Linked DNA regions of Homo sapiens. The protein of the gene in region 2 purifies or fractionates together with the protein of the main gene of each other region. This does not show direct contact. Each region holds a gene or a part of one and is shown on either strand. Other genes may lie near its edges.

Evidence for each region. Proteins that work in one complex are often made in the same cells at the same time.
Region 1: the proteins of PRPF3 (region 2) and CENATAC purify together in Homo sapiens (affinity purification with mass spectrometry; 4 studies listed by BioGRID and IntAct, with this or other methods). This does not show direct contact.

What each region holds. Positions count from the first base shown.
Region 1 is NC_000011.10:119,004,638-119,008,137, reverse strand, and holds part of CENATAC (centrosomal AT-AC splicing factor), read right to left. Parts: intron 1-3,500. UniProt on the Homo sapiens protein: Component of the minor spliceosome that promotes splicing of a specific, rare minor intron subtype. Negative regulator of centrosome duplication.
Region 2 is NC_000001.11:150,328,033-150,331,532, forward strand, and holds part of PRPF3 (U4/U6 small nuclear ribonucleoprotein Prp3), read left to right. Parts: intron 1-287; coding exon 288-434; intron 435-2,419; exon of another isoform or gene 2,420-2,466; intron 2,467-3,500. UniProt on the Homo sapiens protein: Plays a role in pre-mRNA splicing as component of the U4/U6-U5 tri-snRNP complex that is involved in spliceosome assembly, and as component of the precatalytic spliceosome (spliceosome B complex).

The DNA of each region.
Region 1 (3,500 bases), on a different chromosome or scaffold from region 2:
ATACCCACAGGTGTGGAGGGGCAGGCCACCCCTTCAATAAGTAAAATTTAAAAACAACAAAAAAGCCACTTAGCTACTACAGTCTAGATTTGATTCCCCAGCAACAGAATATCCCACAACTCACACTGGGGTCATCCAGTCCTTTTTGTTTCAGTGTTGTCCTTTTTGGTGTATGAAACAAGGACCTGAGAAGCTGGCTCTTTGGTCTTCCTTTTCTTTTCACTGTCTATGTAAGAAACCATCTAAATCTAAAAGTGCCTCCTCCTATCTTTACCAGTCAAATCAACCAAACCTTGGAATTGCCTTGTGTGTGTATGTTTGACAATTTACAAGGTTCAAAAGTAAAAATTAGGCTGGGCACAGTGGCTCATGCCTGTAATCTCAACACTTTGGGATGCCAAAGTGGAAGGACTGCTTGAGCCCAGGAGTTTGAGACCAGCTCAGGCAACATAGTGACCCTGTCTCTACAAAAAATACAGAAATAGCCAGGTGTGATGGTGCACACTTATAGCCCTAGATACTTGGAAGGCTGGGGTGGGAGGATTGCTTGAGCCTGGGAGGTTGAGGCTGTAGTGAGCTGTCATTGTATCATGGCACTCCAGCTTGGACAACAGAGCAAGACTCCATCTCAAAATAAATAAATAAATAAATAAAAAGGCCAGATTAGGTGGTTCACATCTGTAATCCCAGCACTTTGGGAGGCCGAGGTGGGCGGATCATGAGGTCAGGAGTTTGAGACCAGCCTGACCAACATGCTGAAACCCCATCTCTATTGAAAGTACAAAAATGAGCCGGGCGTGGTGGCACGTGCCTGTAATCCCACCTACTTAGCAGGCTGAGGCAGGAGAATCACTTGAACCTGGGAGGCGGAGGTTGCAGTGAGCCAAGATCATGTCATTGCACTCCAGCCTGGGTGACAGAGCGAGACTCTCTCCAAAAAAAAGAAACGAAAAGAAAACTATATTTAGGTTGCCGGTATCTCCTGGCCACTGGCTGCCACTACAGTTCATTTATCTGGAACCTGGGCTCCTGAAGATGCAGCACTGGAGCAGAGAGATGATGTTGACAGGGTGTCTTAGTCCATTTTCACACTGTTGATAAAGACATACCCAAGACTGGGTAATTTACAAAGAAAAAGAGGTTTAATAGACTCACACAGTTCCATGTGGCCGGGGAGGCCTTATAATCACAGCAGAAGGTGAAAGGCATGTCTCATGGTGGCAGGCCAGAGAGAATGAAAACCAAGTGAAAGGGGAAACCCCTTATAAAATCATCAGATCATGTGAGACTTATTACCATGAGAACAGCATGGGGGAAAACGCCCCCATGATTCAGTTATCTCCCACTGGGTCCCTCCCACAACGTGGGAATTATGGGAGCTACAGTCAAAAAAATTTGGGTGGGGACACAGCTAAACCATATCACAGAGGTTGATGAATGACCCAGTCACATTAGAAATAGGTGGACTAAGCCAGGCGCAGTGGCTCACGCCTGTAATCCCAGTACTTTGGGAGGCCGAGGCGGGTGGATCACGAGGTCAAGAGATCGAGACCATCCTGGCCAACACGGTGAAACCCCATCTCTACTAAAAATACAAAAATTAGGCCGGGCATGGTGGCTTACGCCTGTAATCCCAGACTTTGGGAGGCCGAGGCAGGCGGATCACGAGGTCAGGAGATCAAGACCATCCTGGCTAACAAGGTGAAACCCCGTCTCTACTAAAAATACAAAAAATTAGCCAGGCATGGTGGCGGGCGCCTGTAGTCCCAGCTACTCAGGGAGGCTGAGGCAGGAGAATGGCGTGAACCCAGGAGGCGGAGCTTGCAGTGAGCCGAGATCGTACCACTGCACTCCAGCTTGGGTGACAGAACAAGACTCCATCTCAAAAAAAAAAAAAAAGGTTGGGTGTGGTGGCCTGTGCCTGTAGTCCCAGCTACTCAAGAGAATCGCTTGAACCTGGGAGGCAGAGGTTGCAGTCAACTGAGATCACGCCACTGTACTCCAGCCTGGCGACAGAGCAAGATTCCATCTCAAAAAAAAAAAAAAAAAAAAAAAAAAAAAATCCTGCCTACTCTGAAGGCCAAGGCAGGAGGATTGCTTGAGCCCTCAGGAGTTTGAGGCTGCAGTGAGCCATGATTGTACCGCTGCACTCCAGTCTGGGTGACAGAGCAAGACCCCATCTCAAAAAAAAAAAAAAAAAAGCATCTCAAATTATTTAACCAAATGGACTAAGCACATAATAATAATGGACTGTACAGACTGCCAGGTTTCTTTCCTATACTTTGTGCGATTATCACCAGGAAGTTTCTCTCTGGGTCTCATAATCCACAACACCTGAGTGTATCACATGAGTGTGCAGGACAATGAAGACACAGTGGAACACAACTAGACTTTCTGTAGACTAACCTGGAAGGCAGGTCTCTAATTTCCAAACCAGAAGTTCCTGGAAACTGAGTTCAAGGAAATAGAAGAAACTGATTAAAAAAAAAAAATTACAGTGTGGTTGAAGTCCAGAAATTTCTAGGCAGCTGGCTGGGCACAGTGGCTTGTCTGTAGTCCCAGCACTTTGGGAGGCTGAGGTGGGAGGATTGCCTGAGACCAGGAGTTTGAGACCAGAGGAAAAGAAAATGACAATGTGGAATTGTAAAAAAAAAAAATTTTTTTTTTTTTTGAGACGGGGTCTCACTCTATGTCGCCAGGCTGGAGTGCAGTGGCATGATCTCGGCTCACTGCAAGCTCCACCTCCTGGGTTCACGCCATTCTCCTGCCTCAGCCTCCCAAGTAGCTGGGACTACACACACCCACCACCTCGTCTGGGTAATTTTTTGTATATTTAGTAGAGACGGGGTTTCACCGTGTTAGCCAGGATGGTCTCGATCTCCTGACCTCGTGATCTGCTGGCCTTGGCCTCCCAAAGTGCTGGGATTACAGGCATGAGCCATCGTGCCCGGCCAAAAATTTTTATTTATTTGAGGACCAGAGAGAAGTTTTGTGCTTTAGCAGACTCCTCCGTGTTTTCTTCTTTTCACCCTGTTCAAAGTTTCCAGGTATTGGCTTTTTTTTTCTTGCTGTTTTTGAGACAGGGTATTTTGCTCTGTTGCCCAGGCTAGAGTGCAGTGGTGTGATCACAGCTCACTCCTGCCTCAACCTTGTGAGCTTAAGCAATCCTCCTGCCTCAGCCTCCCCAGTAGCTAGCACTACAGGCAAATGTCACCATGCTTGGCTAATATAATTTTTTTTTTTTAGAGATGGGGTTTCACTATGTTGTTCAGGCTGGTCTTAAACTCCTGGGCTCAAATGATCCTCTGTCTCAGCCTCCAAAAGTGCTGGAATTACAGTCATGAGCCACTGCAACTGAATTGCCTTTTTTTTTTTAAAGAGACATTCTTGCTATGCTGCCCAGCTGGAGTGTAGTGGTGGGATCACAGCTCACTGCAGGTTCAACCTCCTGGGCTCAAGTGATCCCTCAGGCTCAGGTGATCCCCCTGCCTTAGCCTCCA
Region 2 (3,500 bases):
AAGTTGAGAGAAATCATTATAAATGTGAGCAGTAGCATTTGCAAAGACCTTGAGATGGGAACATTTATAAGAACATGGGAATGAAATTTGTTTGACTGGATTAGGAGAATGTTGAAGTTGGGTGAGATGGAGAGTCTAGTAGACCCTGCTTCTGGCAGGTGGCTATTTGCAAGGTTGTGTCATATTCCCCTGGGAATAGCCAGAAAATGCTGGTAGGGGCTAGGATAATTCTTCCCTTCTCCCCACGGGGAGGGATACAGCTTTTCTTTCATCTTGGGTTCCCTTAGGAGGTGTTTGGTGATGACTCTGAGATCTCTAAAGAATCATCAGGAGTAAAGAAGCGACGAATACCCCGTTTTGAGGAGGTGGAAGAAGAGCCAGAGGTGATCCCTGGGCCTCCATCAGAGAGCCCTGGCATGCTGACTAAGCTCCAGGTTAGTGATTAGGGACTGGAAGCAAAGTGGTTTTGTGAGTTGAAGAAGCAAAAGGTGCATGGGTCTGTATTTATTGTGGAATTTTTTTTTTTTTTTTTTTTTTGAGGTGGAGTTTTGCTCTTGTCACCCAGGCTGGAATACAGTGGCGCGATCTCAGCTCACTGCAACCTCCGCCTCCCGGGTTCAAGCAAATCTCCTGTCTCAGCCTACTGAGTAGCTGGGATTAGAGGCACCCACCACCAAGCCTGGCTAATTTTTGTATTTTTAGTAGAGATGGGGTTTCACCATGTTGGCCAGGCTGGTCTTGAACTCCTGATGTCAGGTGATGCACTCACCTTGGCCTCTCAGAGTGCTAGAATTACAGGAGCGAGCCACTGCGCCCGGCTAATTTTTTGTATTTCTTTTAGTAGAGACAGGGTTTCACCATGTTGGGCAGGCTGGTCTTCAACTTCTGACCTCAGGTCATCTGCCCACCTTCGCCTCCCAGAGTGCTGGGATTATAGGCGTGAGCCAGCGTGCCTCGCCTTATTGTGATCTTGATTTGAATTAGTGTTTAGCATTTGGGGTAAACTTTTTTTTTTGAGATAGAGTTTCACTCTGTTGCCCATGCTGGAGTGTAGTGGCGTGATCTCAGCTCACGGCAACCTCCACCTCCCAGGTTCAAGCGATTCTCCTGCCTAAGCCTCCGGAGTAGCTGGGACTACATGCGAACACCACTACGCCTGGCTAATTTTTGTATTTTTAGTACAGATGGTATTTTGTCATGTTGGCCAGGCTGCTCTGGAACTCCTGGCCTCAAGTGATCTGCCACCTCAGCCGCCCAAATGGCTGGGATTACAGGTGTGAGCCACCATGCCAGGCCAGCATTTGGGAAAATTTTATTTCCTGCTTTATGTTTTAGCGTTCTTTGATTTGACCAGGAGTATTCTAGGTAAGGGTATTGAAATTGCCATTTACTGTGGCAAGCAAAGTGTGTTATGTACATTATTTGCCTAATTACCTATGTCGTTGAGTCATTGAGAAAATTAAATGAAATGATCAGAACTCATCTTAATGACAGAGGAGACTCTCCAAACATAATGCAAAGAAGATATAATCCACTGATAAATAATTTTAAGTTGACTTTATTTTTTTTTAACAGGAAGTATTTGTGTTTTTTCAATTGGCATTGTTAAATAATACCACATAAGTGTTTCTTTTACCATTTAATATTTGAGGGGGGTAATAGAACATATACAGAAATATGGGTGGGTGGATTTGCATATATGTGATATTTACAGAAGGAAAGAAATGGATTTTTTTTGTGTGTGTGTGTGAGATGTTCTCTCTGTCACTCAGGCTGGAGCGCAGTGGTGCGATCTCGGTTCACTGCAGCCTCTGCCTCCCAGGTTCAAGTGATTCTCCTGCCTCAGCCTCCTAAGTAGCTGGGATTATAGGCATGTGCCACCACGCACGGCTAATTTTTGTATTTTTAGTAGAGACAGGGTTTCACCATGTTGACCAGGCTGGTCTGGAACTCCTGACCTCAAGTGATCTGCCTACCTTGGCCTCCCAAATTGCTGGGATTATAGGCGTGAGCCACCGTACCTAGCCTGTTTTTGTTTTTCAGGCAAGGTCTCACTTTTTTGTCCAGGCTGGAGTTCAGTGGCGAGATCTTGGCTTACTGCAACCTCTGCCTCCCGGGCTTGAGTGATCCTCCCACCTTGGCTTCCCAAGTAGCTGGGACTACAGGTCACCATGCCTGGCTGATTTTTGTATTTTTTTTAAAGATTGAGTTCCACCATGTTGCCCAGGCTGGTCTTGAACTCCTGGGCTGAAATGATCCTCCTGCCTCAGCCTCCCAAAGTGCTGGACTTACAGGCGTGAGCTACCACGCCCAGCCAATTATTTTCTTTTTTGGGGGGTGGGGGATGGAGTCTTGCTCTGTCACTTAGGCTGGAGTACGGTGGCGCGTTCTCGGCTCACTGCAACCTCTGCCTCCCGGGTTCACGCCATTCTCCTGCCTCAGCCTCCTGAGTAGCTGGGACTACAGGTATGTACCACCATGCCCGACTAATTTTTTGTATTTTTAGTAGAGATGGGGTTTCACCATGTTAGCCAGGATGGTCTTGATCTCCTGACCTCGTGATCCACCCGCCTCGGCCTCCCAAAGTGCTGGGATTACAGGCATGAGCCACCGTGCCAGGCCCAATGATGTTTTTTATGGAGAATGGGGATGGACGTATTCACAACATATCCTTTTGTTATGTTTCTTTCTTTTTTTTTTTTGAGACGGAGTCTCACTCTGTCGCCCAGAGTGGAGTGTAATGGCGCTATCTCGGCTCACTGCAACCTCCGCCTCCCGGGTTCAAGCTATTCTTCTGCCTCAGTCCCTTGAGTAGCTGGGATTACAGGCACGCGCCACCACGCCTAGCTAATTTTTTTGTATGTTTAGTAGAGACGGGGTTTCACCATGTTGGTCAGGCTGGTCTCGAACTCCTGACCTCGTGATCCGCCCGGCTCGGCCTCCCAAAGTGCTGGGATTACAGACGTGAGCTGCCAGGCCCAGCCTGTAATTTTTCATTTTATTTTATTTTATTTTTTGAGACGGAGTCTCGCTCTTGCACTGTTGCCTAGGCTGGAGTGCAATGCCGTGATCTCAGCTCACTGCAACGTCCGCCTCCTGGGTTCCAGCAGTTCTCCTGCCTCAGCCTCCTGAGTAGCTGAGATTACAGAACGTGCATCACCATGTCCAGCTAATTTTTGTATTTTTAGTAGAGATGGGGTTTCACCCTGTTAGCCAGGATGGTCTCGATCTCCTGACCTCGTGATCCACCTGCCTCAGCCTCCCAAAGTATTGGGATTACAGGCGTGAGCCACCACGCCCAGCCCTGTAATTTTTAATTTTTTTATTTTCTTTCTTTCTTTACTTATTTAGAGATGGAGTCTCCCCCTGTTGTCCAGGCTGGAGTGCAGTGGCATGATCTTGGCTCACTGTAACCTCCACCTTCTGGATTCAAGCGCTTCTCCTGCCTCAGCCTCCTGAGTAGCTGGCATTACAGGCGCCCACCACCACACCCGGCTAAT